3 linked regions of the Homo sapiens genome follow. The protein of the gene in region 1 purifies or fractionates together with the protein of each later gene. This does not show direct contact. Each region holds a gene or a part of one and is shown on either strand. Other genes may lie near its edges.

The links.
Region 2: the proteins of PRPF19 (region 1) and CTNNBL1 purify together in Homo sapiens (affinity purification with mass spectrometry; 5 studies listed by BioGRID and IntAct, with this or other methods). This does not show direct contact.
Region 3: the proteins of PRPF19 (region 1) and KNSTRN purify together in Homo sapiens (affinity purification with mass spectrometry; 5 studies listed by BioGRID and IntAct, with this or other methods). This does not show direct contact.

Annotation. Positions count from the first base shown.
Region 1 is NC_000011.10:60,896,574-60,903,745, forward strand, and holds part of PRPF19 (pre-mRNA-processing factor 19), read right to left. Parts: coding exon 7,139-7,172; intron 6,963-7,138; coding exon 6,886-6,962; intron 6,309-6,885; coding exon 6,167-6,308; intron 6,084-6,166; coding exon 6,010-6,083; intron 5,893-6,009; coding exon 5,830-5,892; intron 4,968-5,829; coding exon 4,926-4,967; intron 4,797-4,925; coding exon 4,722-4,796; intron 4,357-4,721; coding exon 4,281-4,356; intron 4,119-4,280; coding exon 4,009-4,118; intron 2,732-4,008; coding exon 2,576-2,731; intron 2,359-2,575; coding exon 2,289-2,358; intron 2,054-2,288; coding exon 1,968-2,053; intron 1,699-1,967; coding exon 1,528-1,698; intron 1,379-1,527; coding exon 1,273-1,378; intron 1-1,272. UniProt on the Homo sapiens protein: Ubiquitin-protein ligase which is a core component of several complexes mainly involved pre-mRNA splicing and DNA repair. Required for pre-mRNA splicing as component of the spliceosome.
Region 2 is NC_000020.11:37,689,822-37,697,029, reverse strand, and holds the start of CTNNBL1 (beta-catenin-like protein 1), read right to left. Parts: upstream 3,001-7,208; 5' UTR 2,908-3,000; coding exon 2,878-2,907; intron 2,104-2,877; exon of another isoform or gene 1,997-2,103; intron 1-1,996. UniProt on the Homo sapiens protein: Component of the PRP19-CDC5L complex that forms an integral part of the spliceosome and is required for activating pre-mRNA splicing.
Region 3 is NC_000015.10:40,377,939-40,385,720, forward strand, and holds the start of KNSTRN (small kinetochore-associated protein), read left to right. Parts: upstream 1-4,782; 5' UTR 4,783-4,897; coding exon 4,898-5,106; intron 5,107-5,289; coding exon 5,290-5,384; intron 5,385-7,782. UniProt on the Homo sapiens protein: Essential component of the mitotic spindle required for faithful chromosome segregation and progression into anaphase.

The sequences.
Region 1 (7,172 bases):
CAGCATTTGTCTCTCCTGTTGCCATGTAAAGAAAGACATGTTTGCTTTCCCTGCTGCTATGACTGTAAGTTTCCTGAGGCCTCCCGAGTCACTGTGAGTCAATTAAACCTCTTTCCCTTATCAATTACCCAGGCAGTTCTTCATAGCAGTGTGAGAACGGACTAATACAGTTGGTGATCCTGATCCTGTGTAGGCCTAGGGTAATGTGTGCTTGTGTCTTAGTTTTTAACAAGAAAAGTTTAAAAAGTAAAAAATAAAAATAAAAAAATTAGAAAAAAGCTTATAGAACAAGGATGTAAAGAGAGACAATATTTTTGTACAGCTGTACAATGTGTTTTAGTTTTAAGTTAAATGTTATTACAAAAGAATCCATTTTTTTAAGTTTATAAAGTAAAAGTCAGCTAAGGCTTATTACTGAAGAAAAAGTTTTTTATGAATTTAGTAAAACCTAAGTGTACTGTGTTTATAAAGTCTACAGCAGCGTACAGTAATGTCCTAGGCCTTCACATTCACTCACAACTCACTCACTGAAAGCAACTTCCAGTCCTGCAAGCTCCTTTCATGGCAAGCACTATACCAGTGTACCATTTTAAAAAAATCTCTTATACCTTATTTTTACTGAACCTTTTCTATGTTTACACTTGTTTAGATACACAAATACTTACCATTGTGTTATAATTGTATTCACTACATTTAATATGCTGTACCGGTTTGTAGCCTAGGAGCAATAATAGACTATACTAAGGTTATAGCAATAGTCTTGGCGTGTAGTAGGCTACACCATTTAGATATATGTAAGTTCACTCTACAATGGTCGCACATGACGATATCACCTAACAAGACATTTCTCAGAACATATCCCCATTATTAAGTGATATATAAACTGTATAAGCTTCAATCATCTGACCCTTCTGCAGATCTAATATAATGTGGGCCTCCCGTGCATATGCACGTAATTAAAATGGCTCTCCTCCTGTCACTGTCTAATGTTCATTTATTTTAGATTCAGTTATCAAAACTTCAGAGGGACTTTTCTCTCCCTTTAGTAACCTGCCCAATGCCACAGGGCATGGAAGTGGCAGAACAAGCACTAGCATCTACTGCCATGCAGTCTGACTCAGTTGCTTCCTTAGTCATAAAGCTCTGCCTCAGGTGGTAACAGAAAGCTGCTTAGGTAAATTCATGCAAGCCCTAGAAATTCCTAACCCAGTGAGGCTTCCCTCCGGGCCTGGGCACCTAGAGAGATCCCAGGAGCCCAGGACCAGCCTCTACCTGTAAAGTGAAGAATCTCCGTCCATTGTTTGCAGATGTAGATCTGGACATCCGTGCCCCCAAGAGCCAGGTAGGTACCACTCTGGTCAAAGATCAGTGACTTTACCTGCCAGAAATAGAAAGAGAGAAGGTCACACAAGGGGAACAGAAACTATGGGGCAGTTGCGGATAAGCAGAAGCAATTAGATTAATTCAATAAATAATTGACAAACAAGGAGACACAATGGAAAGCTGGGCGGAGGGGGAAGGGCACACCTCAAAGTTGTTATCCAGCTGCAAAGTCTTAAAGTTCTTAAGCTTGCGCAGATCCCAGAGCTTGACAGAGGAGTCATCAGCCGCTGTAGCCAGGTAGTAACCATTCTCAGAGAAGGCGATGCTAGTGATGGGGCCCGAGTGGCCAGGGAAGTTGGCCACATTAGTACGTTCCTACAGTGGCGGTGGGTAGTAAAATACGTCACCCACAGATCATGAGAGGAAGAAAATGGGGCTCACCAAACTCCTACCTGAGATGTCCCTCACGTCCTTCCAGGAAGGACAGCCAGCGGGACCCCCCAGACCACACCATCATATCACACACGCACAGCCAGTGTCTCTCCACCTTCAGGGCCAGGTGCCACAAGCACCTAATTAGCACTGCATTGTCACAAACACTCCCTCTGGCCCTGGGCCTCAGATGGAGGCCTACCATGTCCTACCTTCAAGTCCCAGATCTTGATCTGAGAGTCCATGGTTCCTGTTCCAAAGATGAGTCCGTCAGGGTGGAACTGTGCACAGGTGAGAGCTGTGGAGGAGGGAAGAGAGACCTGTGGTCAGAGCCCACCAGGGAGAGAGACTAAGAGCAGCAAAGGTAGGTTCCTTGTTCTTCACATTCCTCAGTGAACCCAGCACAAAGCCCGCACTAGACAGGTGCTCATGGTAAATATATCTTTAGAACAAATAAACAAATGACTAAATAAAATGTAAAAATAAATAATAAACAGCAAACAAAAAAGCTGAGTGCCTATGAGGCAACTTACAGCAGCCGGAGGTCTCATCTGTCACCTTGGTGAGCACACGCCCTGTCTGGATGTCAGAGAAAGCCCAGTACTGGGGAAAAAAAAAGAGACAATGGAGTCAGTGAGAAAGTGGGTCCCAGGTTCTGGTGGCCCTTCAGCAAGACAGAGCCCCTGGTTTGGCAAACCCTGGCAAACATTCTCCTTTGAGGTTCTGGGGAACCAGCTGGGGTGGGAAGATGTTCCTGCCACCCAGGATGTTCAAGCTTGGGGACCAGCAGGCCTCTCCAGGGCACTGGCTGGGACCGCACCTGATCATCGGAGGAGCTCAGGAGATAGTCGCCAGTGGCATGAAGGCTGAGGCCTGTCACAGCACTCTCATGGGCCCGAACCACCTGTACACAAGAGGCATTGGGGACCGACCAAATCCTGATAGTGGCATCGGGGGAAGCAGAAAACACCAGGTCCTACAAGGAAAACAAAGACAGAATATCAGAGTCAGAAAAGAGATACAGACCAAAACAATCTTATAAAACGGGGCTGGGGATGCCCACAACTGCCAACAATTGCTTCTCCTTTCAGCTCTGCCCTCCCTGGAACCACCTATCCACCCAATGGTGCCCAAGACAGCCAATGGTAAACGCTATTAAAGTGCTAACTCATACAGCATCAGGGCTTGTGGAGGCGTCCTCGCCATCTAGTGGTAAAAAGGCTAACTGCAACAGAGAGCAATTTTCCCATTTCCAGGACCAAAGGAAAAATGTAGCTAGTACAATTGAGGGACTGAATTTTTTATTCTATTTCATTGAAATTTAAATAGCCACATGCAGCTAACTGCTACTGTACTGTATGGCACAGGTCTGAGCAGTACTGGGACTGGAAGGGGCTGCATGGCTGTATTTCAGTGCATTCCACTTTTATGGATTTCCAGGGTAAGTTAATTTTCCAAAAGATTTGGGGCAGGGAGAGAATTTCGCGTCACTCACCAATTTTTTGTTTAGTTAGGATATTAAAAGCCATAAGGTAAAAATAACTACCATCTTTTTTTATCAATACAATTTCATGAGACCTAACTATTAATACCCCATAAGCAAGAAAACAGTGCTCTCAATTTGAACAAATTTAGTCATGAAAAATTCACCATGTTATTCTTATATTTCTCATTTCCCTAAGGTCCAAGGGAAATCTTGACTGCGAAGCACTAAACCAACCATGTCCTGCAGCCCCAAACCCAAACTGTCTTAGGCTTAAAATTCGAATCCCATAATATCATTAATCTGGTCCCATGAGTTACCTTTACCCTGTAAACCAGAGGTTCTGTTTACAACCTACACCACTTTCAACAGTCAACATGATTTTTACCCATCTTGGAGGATCATGGGAAAGCAGATATATCTGTCCTCCTCGTAAGTGTGAGTTGAGATTGTGTTGAGCTTTGTTTTCTGTAGTTTATATTAGGAACACTATAAGATTTTTTCTTTCCCTAATATGAAATATTTCAATGAATATGCTTGTCAAACTACACATTTCCGTTCTCTCCCTGGCTGGAAGATCACTGCTTTAGAAGGTCTCACGCAGAGTGAAGGGCAATCTCCACAACTCCAAAGTGAGCCCCTCCAAGTGCCCACTCAGGAGTCAGAGTCAGAGCTCTTTCCCAGCCCCACTTCACAGAGACAGCAGCGGGGTGAGGGACAAACAACAGCCAAGGAAAGAAGAACCAAGGGTGGCGAGGAGAACCCCTTACCTGGGAAGGGTGAAACACCACGCTGGTGACCTTCTTGGTATGGCCTTTGAGGGTAGCCAGGATTTGTTCAGAACTTTTGTCAAACACAACGACATTTTTATCCGCCCCACCTGGAGAAGACCCAAAAAGACCAAACAATGAGTCAGGCCCACCCAGGCCCTTTTGCTCAAGGAAATGCTTTTGTTCCCATGCCCATGAAGAGGACAAGGAGCATGCGCCTTCCCTGCTGCCCCTCCCCACTTTGGCCTGCCGGGCTAGGCCCAGACTCTCACCAGTGAGGATCTTGTTGGTGTCGGACGGGCAGAGGTCCAGGGCCAGGATCCCAGGAATGCTGGCACTGTGCAACCCCTTTGCAGAGAGACACACCAAACCCTGTCACGGCCAAATCACAGCAGGCCACAAAGCCACAGACCTCCCCTACTGCCATCTCCAGTCACCCATGTTCTCAGGGGAGCAAGAGTTACTTCTATTCCTTATCCATACCTCTTGGCTATCTGCCTGGTACGGTAACTCCCTCACTGCATCACTAGGAAACCCACAGCTGGGCAGAAAGAGGAGCCCTGACAACTCAGCAGCCCAGGCGAGAAACAGCACCAGGAACAGCGCCAGGAACCTGGGACAGCTCTGCACTCAGCACTCCCCATGCTGGCCCGCCCACCCCAGAAACAAAACGGGAGGGCTGTCTCCAAGACAGTGGAGACCCAGACACTCACCACGTGGGATGCCACCTGCCGGTATTTGCTGAGCTCTTCTGGCTTCACCAGCTCCTCAGGCACAGTCTTCCCTCTCTGAGAAAATGAAAAGCCCCCAAAGAAGAGCAGCAATGAATCCAAGATTCAGCCGCCCTCTCTCTCCTAAGGAGTCAACCGCCTCCCACCAGGCCAGCTCTTTCTCCAGGCTTCAGAAAGAGAACTCACCTTCTTGCGCTCCGTGGTTAGCACAGTGGCTTTGTCTTGAAGCTGGGGAAGAACAGGCTCAATGTGAGACAAATCATCTTGCAAGGAGAAAAGTACATTAGATGCTGGTCACACCTGTGCTTTCAAAAGCAGCACCAAGAACTTGCTATCTGCCAACTTCTACGTTACAGGCTTAAAGGCATTCTCTCTTCTTACTTCCATCCCAGCTTTATGAGGGGGGTGTTGATGACCTTATTTTACAGCTGAGGAAACTGAGCCTCAGAGAAGTGAAGTCAATTGCCCAAGGTCGCAGAGGTGATAAACAGCAGAGCAAGAATAGAAGCTAGGACTGTAGAGCTCCCATAGGTCTACACGCCACTAAGCCAAGGGCTCAGACACATGCTGACAATTTGAACTGCTCAGAAAGACACTAAGAAGCCCTGCAAATGAGAATCCCACTGGACTTGCAATCAGGAAGCCCAGCTCTGCCTCTCAGATGTGTCTTTCATCTGCAAAATAAGGATTATAATTCCTATCCTATTGCCCTCATAGAAAAAAAACAAGAAAATATATAAAAGTAGTTTACTATCTGCAAAGAATCTCAATAACAATAAGAGCTAAAAGGTGCACTTATCAGTAATGAAATCTTTTAAATTCCCACAGCCTGCCTATACAGTGGATATGATCATATTCTCAGTTTAGAAGCTAGGGAAATGAGACACGTAAGGGTTGGCTAAGTAAGCCAAGGTCATAAAGCTTACAAGTAGTGGCATCAAAATACAAACCCAGGCAATCTGGTCCCAGGGTCCATGCTCTGCACCACTCAACTCCCAAAAGCACAGTGATTTTAGTCACGATGGACTCCAGACAGATGGTGAAAAGTAAGGGCCCATCAGCACTCCCACCAGGTGAGAGCAGGACTTACCTTCTGAATAATCTCTGGGGTCATTCCCACCAGCTCACCCAAATCCATTGGCTCACCCGCACCCTGAAGAGAAGAAAGGTGAGGGTGAGAGGCACAGAGCACCAAAGACACCTGCATAAGGACAGTTCTGTGGGCCACTGTACACAAATGGGCTGCTGGTAAGGGAAGGGGGACACTTACCACAACACTTGGTTGGGAACTTGGCACAGCCTGGGGCACAATGAGGCCAGCCTGTGGTTTCAGGGTAGCCAGAGCTGAGAGAAAAGACGATGTTAGAAATGGGATATTACAATGCAGAACCAGCCCAGGGTGGGGGATGGCAGGGGAGAGGCTGCACCTTCTCGGGCAGCAGTGACTTCCTTGGTGAGACGGGCAATGACACGGCAGGCGGCATCGTGCTGGTACAGAGCGTGTGACAGCTCTTGGCGGGTTGTCTGCAGCTGCTGGCGCAGAGTGAAGCTGTGCAGCATGACTGCATCCTGGGAGAAGCAAATATCATTGTAAGGTGAGGTGGGGGGTGCAGGGAGTACCCAGTGGAGTCAGCCCTTGGGGAGGGGATGCTGCCTCCTATCCCAGAGCCTAGACCAGTATCAGTGACCCAAACAATATCCGAGCAAACACGAATGTGCCGGCAGACACTCTTGAGCTCCTACCCCAAGCGAACCACTGGGCACACAGACAGGAGTGGGAGCCAGCTCTTTCCCATCCCCACCTTCCCTAACTTACTGGCAAATCCCAGCTGTCATGCCGTCCCCTCTCTAAAAGAGAATAACAACACTGCTGCTGCTGCTATTTATTGATCGCCCTCGTTGTGTCAGGCACTGTGCCAGACAGTCCTGCAGGATGTATTCAATCATTCAATTCATAACTCTAGAGCACCTACTATGTACCAGGTGCTGCTCTCAGTGCTGGGGATACAACGAAGAATAAAACAAATCCCTGATGTCACAAAGTTTACCCTCTAAATAATGCTCCATCCTTCCTACCCCCAAGTCCTAACCCAGCAATGCATTCTCTTCAAGTGGGGAAGATGCTGATTCTCTTGCAGGAACTCACCCACTCATCCTGCAAAGCTTTCAGAATGGCCGGGATGCTGGTGGCTGAGGGAGGCTTGGGCCGGATTGGGTGAGCAACTGCCGAAAGGGAAAGCAGGTATGAAGAACATAACCCAGGGGCCTCCCCCGCCATCACATCTTTTCCTTTTAGCCATAAACAGCCCACCATCTCTTCCTCCAGTGCACTGGCACCACCTCCCATCCTCTCAGGCTCTGAGCTAAGATGGCCCTAGACTAAGGCAGCCAATAGGCACCTTTGATGTCGATGAGCTGCTCCTCGGAGAGAGG
Region 2 (7,208 bases), on another chromosome or scaffold:
TTATATTTTTAGTAGAGACATGGTTTCTTCATGTTGGTCAGGCTGGTCTCAAACTCCCAACCTCAGGTGACCCACCCGCCTCAGCCTTCCAAAGTGCTGGGATTACAGGCATGAGCTACCACACCCGGCCCACTTTACATTTTCTAGTAGCCACATTTTAAAAGTTTTTTAAAAAGCAACATTAATTTTAATAATATATTTTCTTTAATCCAATATATCGTAAGTGTTATCATTTATTCAACATGTAATCAGCATAAAAGTTAAGGTACTGTACATTATTTTCACGTGGCCAGGGGCAGTGGCTCACGCCTGTAATCACAGCACTTTGGGAGGCCAAGGCTGGCAGATCACCTGAGGTTGGGAGTCAAGACCAGCCTGACCAACATGGAGAAACCCCATCTCTACTAAAAATACAAAAATTAGCCAGGCGTGGTGGCGCATGCCCGTAATCCCAGCTACTCAGGAGGCTGAGGCAGGAGAATCGCTTGAACCCAAGAGGCAGAGGTTGCAGTCAGCTGAGATCTCACCATTGCACTCCAGCCTGGGCAACAAGAGTGAAACTCCATCTCAAAAAAAAAAAAAAAAAAAAAAAAAGATATTGTACATTATTTTCATACTAAATCTTTGAAATCCAGTGTGTATTTTGCACATGTAGCAGATCTAAATTCGAAACTAGTCACATTTTAAGTATTCAATAATCACATGTGCCTAGTGGCTACTATACAAAGCAGTGCAATTTTATAGCATACTCTGCTATATTCCCTTCCCAGCACTTACCACAAACTGAATGCATTGTTTACTTATTATCTTGTAACTTCCCACCAGATGCTCCACAAAAGCAAGAATCTTGTCTTTTATTCAGTGTTGTATACCCAGTGGATAGACTGCCTTGCACACAGTAGGTGTTCAATATATATTTGTTGAGCAAATGAATGAAACTCTTCTAGCTTTAATGGGCTAGCCATTCTAGAAATTCCAAGCCGGCATACAATCACTGATTTAATAACTTGCCTATTTCCCTTCATCTTTCACTATCAATTAAACTGTCTTTAAAAGAAAAATCTCTTGGCTATATAGCTCCCCATTGCTGAACTGTTCTTTCCCATGATGTCTTAAGCGTCCAGGGTCAATTTCTTGTACTTTGGCTGAGGGAGTGGTATGAAAATAACTGCTAATATTTACTGAATGTTTACTCTTTGGCAAGCATTGTCTAAGGACTTTCCATTTCTCAACAGCTTCACAACAGCCCTGTGAGGCAGCTACCGTCACTGTCCCCCATTTACAGATGAAGAAACCAAGGCAGAGAGAAATTAAGTATTTTGTTCAAGGTTACAGCAGCCAGTTAGTAGCAAAACAGAGACTGCCAGCAACCTAGGGGTCCAGACTCATGGCTCTTAATCACCTATTCTTGACTGCAGGGCTGTCTAACAAAAATATAAGCTGAACTATATATGTTGTTTTAAATTTTCTAGTAAACACATTAAAATGTCAAGAGGGGCAGTTAAAATTGGTTTTAAACATATTTTATTGGCTGAGTGTGGTGTGTGGTGGCTCATACCTGTAATCCCAGCACTTTGGGAGGCCAAGTGGGAAGACTGCTTGAGGCTAGGAGTTTGAGACCATCTTGGGCAACATAGCAAGACCCTGTCTCTACAAAAAATTTAAAAATCAGCCAAGCATAGTGATGCCTGCCTGCAGTCCTAGCTACTTGGGAGGATACCTTAGACCTAGGAGTTTAAGGCTACTGTGAGCAATGATTGTGCCACTGCACTCCAGCATGGGCGACAGAGCAAGATCCTGTCTCTAAATAACAATAAAATAAAATTTTAAAAATTAATTAAGTATATTTTATTTCACCCATTATCCAAAATATGATCATTTAATCAATATGACCAATAACCAATGTAATTGATATAATCAGTACGATCATGTAATCAATATAAAAATTTCACTTTTTCCATACTAGTCTCCAACCCAAATGTGTCTTTATACTTACAGTATTTCTCAATTCAGACTAGTCACATTTCAAGCAATCAACAGCCTATGTGGCTAGTGGCTACGACATTCGGCAGTGCAGCTCTACTGCTCCTCGCAATGACCCTCCTATGGAATCAAAGTGGGGGAAAAACTTTGGGGTGGAAGTCAGTACGCCTGAGCTCAAATTCCAGCTCCTTGTTTCTGAGTGACTTTGGACAAGCCCTTTCTGCTCTCTAGGTCCCATACAGTTTCCCCACAAGTTTCCTAGGCAAGGGGGACCCTGAGCAAGATTCCTAGAAACTCATTCCATGCTAGAATTCCCAACATCTCCTGCAAATCGCAGTAAACACAAGCACAGCTTTCCACACTTTAAAACCAGCTTTCATACATATCAGTTGGTACAGTCCTCAAACAACCCTACTAAGGCAGTTATTAGTGTCTCCACTATATAGATACAAAAACTTGGTTCAAAGAGGGGGGGAATGACTTGTCCAAAAGCCACATAGCCAGTCAGTGGAGAAGCTGGAGATCAAATCCAAGTGAGACCAGTGCACTCCCACCGCCGCCACCACCATCACCTCAATGACTGGGGGGACATGAGAGCTGAGAGGACATGGTTGTGAAAAAAAGGATAGTCTGGGGTTTCAGAGGAGTTTCAGGGAACCAGGCCCCAGGGTGAGGAAGAGGAGGTGAAGGGCTCAGGTCTTGAGAAGGGATGAATCGAAAGGGCCCAGGAGGGCTTCGGAGAGCAAAGTAAAACGAGGGGCTGAGACCCCGGGTGGCATGAGAAGTTAGAGGGCCCGGGAGTGAGGCGAGAGGAGGTGAGATGAAAGGGCTCTGGCTCCTGCGACCCCTGCCCAGGTGAGAACGCGGTCGCTCGGCCCTCCCTGCCCCTCATACCTGGTAGCTCAGAAGTTCGCCCACGTCCATGGTACCCGGCCCAGCAAATACTCCACTTCCCTGCACTCACGCCCAGACCGCGGGCCCGTCAGCCGCGGCTCCAGCCACACTGCCGTAAAGTGCGGCGAGCGGAGCCGCAGAGCCAATAGGGCAAAAGTGCGAGCGACAAGCGAGCCGGCCACACCGCGGTAAAAGGACGCGCCGCCGTAAAGCGCGCTGCATTTGGAACAGGGTTGCTTCCGCCTGGAGCCTGAGGGGGCGGGGAAAGGGGGCGGAGACTTAGAGGAGGGGCGGGAGGGGAGAGCAGGGACCAGAAGAAACCAAACTTGATTGCGCGTCCCTAGTGTCCAGGGCGGAGTGCCGGGTGTTTCGTGTGCGCTCTCACGAGCTTCCAGTGATTTATCCTCATTTCACAGAAAAGGAAACTGACGCTCCCAACTGCACCATCCAATACTTTACTCACTAGCCACATATGGCTACCGAGCGCTTGAGATATGGCTACTCCGAAGTGAGATGTGCCATAAGTGTAAATAAAATACACACCAGATTTCTAAGACTTACATTGATTACAGGTTGAAATGATATTTTGGATATACTGGGTCAAATTCATATATTATAAAATGAATTTTACCTGTTTCTCTTTACTTCTTAAATGTGGTTAGTAGAAAGTTTTAAATTACACATGTGGCTCTCATTTGTGGTTCCCATTAATTTCTATCAGATAGTGCTGGCTCAAAAAGTGACTTGTTCCAAGGCTGTACAACTATTACTGGCTGAGAAACTATTGGTGATCACATGTCCCTCTCTAGGCTTGTGTCTGCTCATCTATGCGAAGTCTAACGGTCACTAGATGATCCCCTTGCTACCCAGGTGATATAAAAAGGTTTCTGGAGGAGAAAGTTGCCCATAATTGGAAGAGAATCATTCAGAGTGCATCTGATCTTAAACAAGATCAGAATGCACCTGGGACTTAAGGCTCCATCTTCAAAGGAAATTAAACCTCCTTCCATAAGCCCCTGTCCTTTATATTTATAATTATATTTATGTATTATATTATATTTATATGCCCTTCATATTTATAATTTTGGTCCCCATCCCATCTGCACTGGCTCCAATTATACAGAAATTATTCTTATTCCTCAGAATGACAAATCCTCTCCCCTTCTGCCTGGCCATCAGCACCATACCTCATCCAATTCTCTCATCTTTCGGGTCTCAAATGTCACTTTCTTACAAGGGCTTCTTCAACTCACCCTGGTCCAGGTAATCAACCTCTCTCCTCATTATTCTTTTTCCAAGTACCTGCTCCACTACGTATATATCTCATTCTGTAATTTTGTGCTTAATGGTTGACTATTTGTTTCTTGACAGCCTCATTTACTGGATTGCAAGCTCTATGCAAGCAGGACATGTGTGTGTCATGTTCACCACTGTATCCCCCAAGCCTAGTACAGTGCCTGGTAGAGGGAGAGGTTTCATAATGGGCCTTGTGTGCCATGGTAAAGAGATTAGATTTTGGCTAGGCGTGGCCGGGCGTGGTGGCTCACGCCTGTAAGCTCAGCACTTTAGGAGGCCAAGGCGGGCAGATCACTTGAAGTCAGGAGTTTGAGACCAGCCTGACCACCATGGTGAAACCTCGTCTCTACTAAAAATTACAAAAATTAGCTGGGCATGGTGGCACATGCCTCTACTTGGGAGGCTGAAGCAGGAGAATCGCTTGAACCCAGGAGGCAGAGGCTGTAGTGAGCTGAGATTCCACCACTGCACTCCAGCCTGGGTGACAGAGCAAGACTCTGTCTCAAAAAAAAAAAAAAAAAAAAGAGAGAGAGATTGGATTTTATGCTAACGGCATAAGGAAAGTTTTAAGCAAGGTAGTTTTGTGACTGGGCTTATGTTTTTAAAGGATCACCTATGCAATCTGCATTGAATTCAGTCTATTTGGGTGTCTTTCCCCCTCCTACTTATATAAGAATATGGACTGTGCCCGGCCGGGTGTGGTAGCTCACGCCTGTAATCCCAGCACTTTGGGAGGCCGAGGAGGGCAGATCACGAGGTCAGGAGATTGAGATCTTCCTGGCCCACATGGTGAAAACCCATCTCTACTAAAATACAAAAAATTAGCCAGGTGTGGTGGCACGTGCCTGTAGTCCCAGCTACTTGGGAGGCTGAGGCAGGGGAATCGCTTGAACCAGGGAGGTGGAGATTGTAGTGAGCCAAGATGGCACCACTGCACTCCAGCCTGGCGACAGAGCAAGACTACGTCTCAAAAAAAAAAAAAAAAAATAGAATATAGACTGTGCCTTGTTTGGGAAGACAGGAGAGAGTAATGGTGAGGGTGTACCCTTTGGACCCAGACCCCTGTGTTCTAGTTCATGGTATGTTGATGCCAGCTTGCACAGACAGGTCTACAAAAGCCCATGGTTAAATTTGTAGGAAACTTGCAAGCTGATTGACACCAGGTTGATAGCTTGAAATCAGCCATGCTAGGAGTATTTGTACAATGTAAATCAGCAAATGCTACAAATCAGGGTTGTTAATGTTGTTGTTTTTCCAGAGAGCTACTTGTAGGGTTTTTTTGTTTCTTTGTTTGCTTTTGAGACAAGCTCGGGCTCTATCACCCAGGCTGGAGTGCAGTGGCGGGATCTCAGCTCACTGCAACCTCCCCCTCCCGGGCTGAAGCCCACCTCAGCCTCCCAAATAGCTAGGACTACAGGCGTGCGCCACCATGCCTGGCTTATTTTGTTGTTGTTGTTGTTGTTGCTGTTGTTGTAGAAATAGAGTTTCACCATGCTGCCCAGGCTGGTCTCAAACTCATGAGCTCAAGCAATCCCCCCGCCTTGGCCTCACAAAGTGCTGGGATTACAGGCATGAGCCACTGCACCCAGCCGAGCCAGTTGTTAAACATCTACCCAACACACCCTGATTCTGGTTCTAGTGGAAGTTCCACCATATCTAGCCATGGGTCCTTGGGTAAGTTACTTTCTCTGTCCCTAAATTACACTTTCCTTATCTGTAACATGACTCATTCATTCATTCATTCATTCAACAAGTATTTACTGAGAGCCTACTCAATGCTAGGCACAATTCTGGGCTCTGAGGATATGGAAGTTTATAAAACAAAGCTCCTGCCTTCTGGAAACCTACATTCTAGTTTGGGTGAAAACCTCATGGAGAAAATGTTGATATGAGTCTTATTTTACAGATGTGGAAACAGTGGCAATGAACTTCACCTCTACATGCCTGATTTTCTCACCTGCAAAGTGGAGATTCAACCAAATCTACCTCATAAGGTTATGGAGGGTTTACATGAAATGCTGTATGCAAAGCACTTGGCACAGTGCCTGGCACAGAAAAGTGCTGTGTGTCTTATATTAATATTGTAAGGAGTTGGCAGCTGGGCACGGTGGCTCATGTCTGTAATCCCAGAGCTTTGGGAGACCAAGGCGGATCCCTTGAGCCCAGGAGTTCGAGACCAGCCTGGGCAACATAGTGAGACCCTGTCTCTACAAAAAAATAGAAAAAAAATTTAGCCAGATGTGGTGGCACGTGCCTGTAGTCTCGGCTACTCAGGAGGCTGAGGCTGGAGAATCACTTGAGCCCAGGAGGCAGAGGTTGCAGTGAGCCAGGATTGTGCCACTGCATCCTGGGTGACAGAGCAAGACCTTGTCTCTCAAAAAAAAAAAAAAAAAAAAGAAAGAAAAAGGAGTTGAGTGGGATAGGGGCAAGGGAGAGGGCAGGAAGAATGAGAGAATTCCTTATAACCTTTCCTTTTTAGGCAATCAGTCTTGTCTGTTTTTGTAGAGACCAGTTCTAAAACACAGAATTATAAGGCAAAATCCTATAAGAACCAGGTTTGGTGAGCACCCTGAACTGGGGCTAATGTGCTCTGCTAGAGGTTTCCCTGAGAACGTAACATCTGGACAGGGGTTTAAAGGGAAAGAAGAGTTTACCAAGAAGATACAGTGGGAGAATGGTGACCCAGGCAGAGGGAACAGCATGAGCAAAGACAAGGCAATTGGACCCTTCCTTGTGGACAGAGCTTCAAATGTGTGGAAGAAAAGGTGGAGAGGCTGGCTGGAGAAGATCACGAAGAGGGTTAACAGATTTAGCAAATAAAAATACAGGACACCCAGTTAAATCTGAATTTCAGACAAATAATGAATTTTTTATAAATTTGTCTCATGCAATATTTAATAACATACTAAAAATGTTTTCTGTCTGAAATTCAGAATTAAATGGGCATTATTTATTTTATCTGGCAACCCTAATCTTGGAGAAACTTGAATGCCAGATTAAGATATTTTCATTTTATCTTGATGAGAGGGTCCATT
Region 3 (7,782 bases), on another chromosome or scaffold:
AAACATTGCTGGAACCTACCTAACAAATCTCAAAAGCAAGACCTGAATTCAGGAATCAAGCTGTTTCTAAGTAACTGAAGTGTATCCCAGAACAAAACCCAAGAACATTAACAGAAATCCAAAATTAACGAGCACCCAAAAATGTAAAATTCACAATGGCTGGTTTTCCAATAAAAAATTACCAGTCATGCAAACTATAACCCATCATAAGGAGAAAAATCAGTTGAAACCACTACAGCTGACACCTATGTGAGAATTAGACAAGGACACTAAAAGAATTATTATAACTGTATTCCATATGTACTAAGTAGAGACTAGGAAGATATTTTTAAATACCCACTTTGAATTTTAGAGACGAAAACTAAAATGTCTGAGATGATGGGGTGGGTGGGGTAGGCAGAAAGAGGAGGATGGGAAGAAGTACCAAGGGGAAGGAGGAATGATTTGGGGATGACGGCTGTGTTTATTATCTTAATTGTGGTGATGGTTTCACAGGTATATGTAATTTCTAAACTTATCAAATTGTACACTTAAAATATGTGGTCTATGGAATGTTAATTATATCTCAATAAAGCTGTTAAAATTGTACTGAAACAAAACCATTGGGGGAAACTGGGTAAAGAGTCCAAAGGACCTCCCTATACTATCATTGTAACTTCCTGTCAATTATAACGATTCCAAAATAAAGAATTTAAAAGTGTTTTTAAAATTAAAAAAAAAAAGTCTGAGATGGAAAATCACTGAATGGAATTAACAACAGTTTAGACGTTGCAGAAAAAACAGTAGTGCACTTGAAGACATAACAATAGAAATTATCCAAAAAACACCAAGAGAAAGAATTTTAGAAATGAATACAAAGGGCTAGGCGCAGTGGCTCATGCCTGTAATCCCAACACTTTGGGAGGCTGAGGCGGGCGGATCACCTGAGGTCAGGAGTTCGAGACCACCCTGGCCAACATGGTGAAACCCTGTCTCTGCTAAAAATACAAAAATTAGCCTGGTGTGGTGGTGCATGCCTGTAATCCCAGCTACTCAGGAGGCTGAGGCAGGAGAATCGCTTGAGTACGGGAGACAGAGGTTGCAATGAGCCGAGATGGCACCACTGCACTCCAGCCTGGGCAAAAGAATGAGACTCCATCTCAAAAAAAAAAAAAAAAAGAAAAAAGAAAAGAATACAAAGTATACACAATGTGACCAGGTGGGTGGCTCATGCCTGTAATCTCAGCACTTTGGGAGGCCAAGGTGGGAGAATCAGTTGAGGCCAGGAGCTCCCGACCAGCCTGGGCAACATAGCAAGACTTCATCTCCACAAAAAAATTTTAAAATTAGCCAGGCATGGTGGCACGTGCCTATAGCCCCAACTACTTGGGACGCTGAGGCAGGAAGATCGCTTGAGCCCAAGAGTTGAAGGCTGCAGTGAGCTATGATCGCACAACTGCACTCCAGCCTGGGAAACCAAGCGAGACCGTATCTCAAAAAAAAAGAAAAAAAGTATACACAATATACAACAGGCAGAAAGTATGTCCTTTACAATGATTTAAAGTTATGAAAAAAATTTAAGCCAGGTGAGATAGTGCATGCCTACAGTCTTGGCTACTTAGGAGGCTGAAGTGAGAGGATGGCTTGAGTCCAGAAGTTCAAGGCTACAGTACGCTATCTATGATCACACCTGTGAATAGCCACTGCACTCTAGCCTGGGTGACATAGCAAGATCCTGCCTCTAAAAAAATAAAAATAAAAGTAAACTTAAATTTTAGGTATCAAGTGAAAACAGGCAAGAGGGTTTTTTTATTTTTTTATTTTGTGGGGGCGCATGAATAAAGGAATTTAAAGATGCTACTCTGGATCCCATCTTCCTTCTTCCTTGCTCCTGAGTATCCTTTCCCTCTGTTCTGCTGGCTCGTTCCTATCAGCACACATATCCACAGCTTTAAGGAAAGCTTCCTTTGACCCCCATAACCCATCTCCAGTTACTGCCCAGTTGCTCTGCTCTTTTTGCAACAGACGCCTGGAGTTCTGCCATCTCTGCTTCCTCATCTCCCACGTACTCTTCAACCCATGCCCATGTGACTGCCACTCCAAACGCTCCACCAGCATTCCTCTTGCTAGACTCATCATGACTTCTCTGTTGCTAAATTCATTGGATGCTTTTCGTTCTCATTCTGCTTGCCCTTTCAACTATTTTCAATAGTTCACCACTCCCTCCTTCAGCAGCTTGCCACTTCCTCCTTGGATTTTGGAACACCACCCTTTTTTGTTTTCTTCTCACCTCTCTGGCACTTCTTTATCAGGTTTCTTGGCAAGCACCTTATTACCATTGCAACTTTTAAATGCAGGTGTCCCTGTCCTTGGCCCAAAGGCTCTCTGCACACTTCTTCTCTTGAGCTCATCAAATATCAAGGTTTTATTTTATTTTTTATTTTATTTTGTTTGAGACAGAGTCTCGCTCTGTCACCCAGGCTGGAGTACAGTGGCACCATCTCGGCTCACTGCAACCTCCACCTCTGAGGTTCAAGTCATTCTCCTGCCTTAGCCTCCCAAGTAGCTGGGATTACAGGCATGCACCACCATGCCTGGCTAGTTTTTTGTATTTTTAGTAGAGATGGAGTTTCACCATGTTGGCCAGGCTGGTTTCGAATTTCTGGCCTTAAGTGATCCCACCTCAGCCTCCCAAAGTGCTGGGATTACAGGTGTGAGCCACTGTGCCTGGCCATTTTTTTGTATTTTTAGCAGAGACGGGGTTTCATCATGTTGGCCAGGCTGGTCTCGAACTCCTAAATATCAAGATTTTAAGTACATTCATATGTCAACAACTCCCAAGGGTGTATCTCCAATCCAGGCTCTCTTCTGGGCTCAGGGCCTGTATTTCCAATTGCCTACTTGACCACTCCACCGGAATGCCTCAAAGATATGTCGAGGTTTTCCACGTTCAAAACCCAACTCTCAATCTCCCCCAGCAGAAAATAGTGACTCTATCCACACAATTATTCAAGCCCAATTATTCGAAAAGAAAAAGGACTGGGCGTGGTGGCTCACGCCTGTAATCCCAGTACTTTGGGAGGCCGAAGCGAGCAGATCACCTGAGGTCAGGAGTTTGAGACCAGTCTGGCCAACATGGTGAAACCCCGTCTCTACTAAAAATATAAAAAATTAGCCAAGCGTGGTGGTGGCACTGTAGACCCAGCTACTCGGGAGACTGAGGCAGGAGAATCGCTTTAACTCAGGAGGCGGAGGTTGCAGTGAGCCGAGATCGTGCCACTGCACTCCAGCCTGGGCAACAGAGTGAGACTCCGTCTCCAAAAAAAAAAAGAAAGAAAAGAATATATATATAAAGTATATATAAATTGAGCCAGGTACAGTGGCTCATGCCTGTAATTCCAACACTTTGGGAGGCTGAAGTGGGAGGATCATTTGAGGCCAGGGGTTTAAGACCAGCCTGGGCATCATAGCAGGACCCCATCTCTACAAAAATTAGCTGGGTCTGGTGGCAGGCACCTTTAGTCTTAGCTACTCAGGAGGCCGAGGTGGGAGGATCTCCTGAGCCCAGGAGTTCAAGGTTGCAGTGAACTATGATTGCACTCCAGCCTGGGCAACAGAGTGAGACCCTGTCTCAAAAAATAATAATAAAATAAAATAAAATATAAATTGGATGACACTCTCCTGCTATAATACTTCAGTGGCTTTCCATTACTTTTAGATAAAATCTAATCTCTATACCTTGGCCTGTAAAATCTGTCTTTTGACTGCTTATTTCTCCAGCTTTATCTGTACCACTCTCTTCCTATCTTTCTGTGCCTATAGAAGAACCCATTTCTGCCTTGGGACTTTGCATTTTCCCCTTTCCCCAATGAAATTAACTCCCTCTCCTTCCTTAATCAAACATCATCTCAGAGAGGTCTTCCCTGAGCCCCCAATATAATCTAAGTTTCCCTGCTTTTCTATCTTATACGATTTTGTACTTTTTCTTCATAGTGTGTGTGTTTTGGTTTGATTTTTGAGATCACGCTCTGTCACCCAGGGTGAAGTGCAGTGGCGCGATCTCCGCTCACTGCAACCTCTGCCCCGCCCAGGGTCACATAATTCCCCCACCTCAGCCTCCAGGGTAGCTGGGACTACAGGAGCATGCCACGACACCTGGCTAATTTCTGTATTTTTTGTAGAGACGGGGTTGCACCATGTCGCCCAGGGTGGTCTCAAACTCCTGGACTCAAGCAATTCACCCGCCTCCACCTCCCAAAGTGCTATAATTACAGCTGTGAGCCACTGTGCCCAGCCTTCTTCACAATTTCACCACAATCCGTAAATATATATTTATTTATGTGATTATTTGTTCACTGTCTGTTTTCTAAGTTGTAAACTCCAGGAGGGCAGAGCCAAGGTCAATCTTGATATTTGCCCTCCCTCACTCCCTTCCACCCACTGAGAACACTGTTGGGTAATCAGCAGGTACTCAATAAATGCCAGATGAAATGAATGAGCTAGTGCATTTAGTAATGGAAGCTACCCTGTTTATTGGGAGTAGCTTTGAATCACTACTGAAAATCTGGATAAGTGCTATTAAAATTAGGACCTCAGGTAGGTGCCTCAGGTATCTCAGCCCATAGGTCCTTTTCTTCAAGCCTCACCTGCCACTCTCCACCTGTAACGTGTAGTTTTCATCCAAATAACCTGTGCTCCTGGCAATATCCCTAACAATCCCAAACTAAATAAAGAGGATTGTGACATGGACCCTAAATGTCGCCACGTTTGCGTCTCCATCCCGGAATATGACGCTGGTAGCTCATTAGCTCCATTCAAGCCTACAAATTGCATCACCCTCCTCCTCTGCCCAGACCTGGGGGCTCCAACACCTTTCGCTAGGTCTGGCTCTGGCCTCTGAGCGAACCTTCCGTACAGTATGGCGGCTCCCGAAGCCCCGCCCCTGGACAGAGTTTTCCGTACAACATGGCTGTCTACAGAGTGCGATTCCCACCCACTTCCGCCTAGCTACCGGAAGTTTCTATTTGAAACCCAGGCGGCCGACTTAGCCGGTGGCACGACAGTTGCTGCAGGGAATCTTTTAAACGAGAGCGAGAAGGACTGCGGGCAGGACCGGCGGGCTCCTGGGTTCGGCTCTCCCGGGGCGAGGGACTGGGCTGGATGGGAGGAAGGACGGAATGAGCTGGGAAAGGAGGATTTTCTCTTTTCCAACCCCGAGCCGGGGCCTGTCGGGTCGCGCTATCCCCGGGCCCTCCACTCTCTCGGGCCCAGTGGCCCAGCGCTGGGTAACATTCATCCTGTACCTTCCAGGGTTCAGCCGTGCCGCCTCGTTACGATGACCAGTGTGGTTAAGACAGTGTATAGCCTGCAGCCCCCCTCTGCGCTGAGCGGCGGCCAGCCGGCAGGTGAGGGTCCAAGCCACGCCCGGGGCACTGCGGCCTGGCCGGGGATGGTCTCGGGAGTGTGGAGATCGAATGGGTGGCGCGGGCACGGGGAAGGGCGTCCCGTCGGCCCTGAAAACCTGTGAGCCCCCTATAACCAGGCTATGTAGGTTTATGATGGGAGTTAAGGGAAGGACCATGTGGTAGGATTTTAGACGTGCTCTGCACTTTTCTGCCCGCATGTGTACTGTATTCATCAGTTAGATTCAAGTTGTTGGTTATTGTACAATGTTATTCCCATTAAGCTAGGAATCCCCTTCTAATCGGTTATCGTCTTATTTCCAGACTTGGGCTATCTTGAGGGATTGGGTTTGTTTTCAGGGAGGAAAGAGGAGAATCATTTGAGAAGTGGGATACTTAGGGTTCTTTGTTCACCTTTATATCTGCACCGTGTTTCTCATTACCACATTCTCAATACACGTTTGTTGAGTGAAGTGGGAGAGAGGGGTTAGACCTAGGCACAGTATTTGAGAAACTTGGGCGAAGAGAGAGACATGATTAAAAATAGTTTTTAATTGCTTTGCCATCTGCTTTGTGTTGCTTTGCTTGTGGTTGAAAGTCATCTCATGGGGTCTGCAGTCGGGGAACTGCCTAATCTAGAGATTATAGTACAGAGTAAGCTTCAGACATCAGAAAACTGTTGTGGGAGATTATGGAGTAGCTATTTATGATCCCTTCCCAGATGATTCCACTCAGCTGGTACATAAACCTTGGCAAGATGGAGCGCTGAAGTGGCCAGGCACGGTGGCTCACGCCTGTAATCCCAGCACTTTGGGAGGGCGAGGTGGGCAGATCACGAGGTCAGGAGATGGAGACCATCCTGGCTAACACGGTGAAGCACCGTCTCTACTAAAAAATACAAAAACTTAGCCGGGCGTGGTGGCGGGCGCCTGTAGTCCCAGCTACTTGGGAGGCTGAGGCAGGAGAATGGCGTGAACCCGGGAGGCGGAGCTTGCAGTGAGCCGATATTGCGCCACTGCACTCCAGCCTGGGCGACAGAGCGAGACTCCGTCTCAAAAAAAAAAAGATTGAGCTCTGAAGTAAATAGGCTTTTCTCCAAAGGCTTAATGGGTTGTTTGTTGTCTTGTGTTGCCGCAGAACACCTGAATGGTAATCCTGGCACCAGCGGGGACTAGGAGTTGCTGGAAGAACTGGAGCCAGGTCTCTCAGCTGCTGTGTCTTTCCCTTAGATGCGGTGCCCCTGAGTCAGTGGGCAGTGACTAGCTCTCTCAGCCAAGTTGGAAGTGTTCATCTCTTTGATTTCTATCTCTGTCCCAGCTTTATGATCATATGTAACTGGAACAGTTTCAAATTTTTAGGCTGCCTCCCAGGATTTTTGTTTTGATTTTGAGCGTGGGCTGGATAAGTAATATATGCACATGTGAAAAAAAAAAAGGTGGAAAACCATATACAATGATAAACAAGTTTCCTTCCCTTCCTTGACACCAGCCATCCAGTTCCTCTCCCAGTGTCTCCCATTTTTAAGAGACAGCTTTGTTAAATCCTACTGAATTTTTCCTACAGTGCAATCCTAGATTTTAGCAAATACAAATTATTGGAACCAATTCTAGTCAATGAAGAGTGTTAATTTTGATCAATTGACTGTTAACTCCATTTTACATGGAGTAGATTTGTTATTGTTTAAAACTTACTAATACTTGAGAGAGGAGAAGATGATATTCCTCCAAGATTACCTTTTTCTTCAGACAGACACCTCAGAAAGAACCCTTTTAATACTTCATTTGTACTGCATTTCTTCAATTTGATTTGATTGTAATGGCTCTTAAGTTAGGTCAAACTTAAAGGGGCCATTTTACAGTGAACAAAGTGAGAGTAAGTCCAGAAAAGCCTGCATGTGAGGGTGGGGGTGCTTAACTCCAGATAAGTTACTTGAATTTGCTGTAGAACACAAATGATAGATTGTGTGGTTGCGGGGCTGGCACAAGGATAGAGGAAAATGCTCTCCTTTGGGGAAGAAGAGTGTTATGGCAGGGCCATTTCTCTGGTTATCTGGCAAGAAGATCAGATTAGAATGCCTAATAGGGAAACTCTAAACTTAACAAAGGGTAAACAAAAGGGCTAGTGGTAGAGGCAGGCAGCATGGAAGAGGAAGGGACCAGACAGGTGGTTTAGAGATGGTCTGTGAAACAACCCATGGAACTGTGAAGTGTTTCATTTATTCAACAAGCAGTTATTGAACCCCTGTTCATATGCCAGATACTTTCCTAGGTGATGGGGACACAAAGATGCCTTAGAATGGTTAGGAAGACATTCTAGTAAAAACAACGAAGTAACGGTTTAAAAAAACTCAGAGCAGCTCAGTCATGCCTTAGGAGAGTGTGCAGAGTGCTTGGAGGAGCTT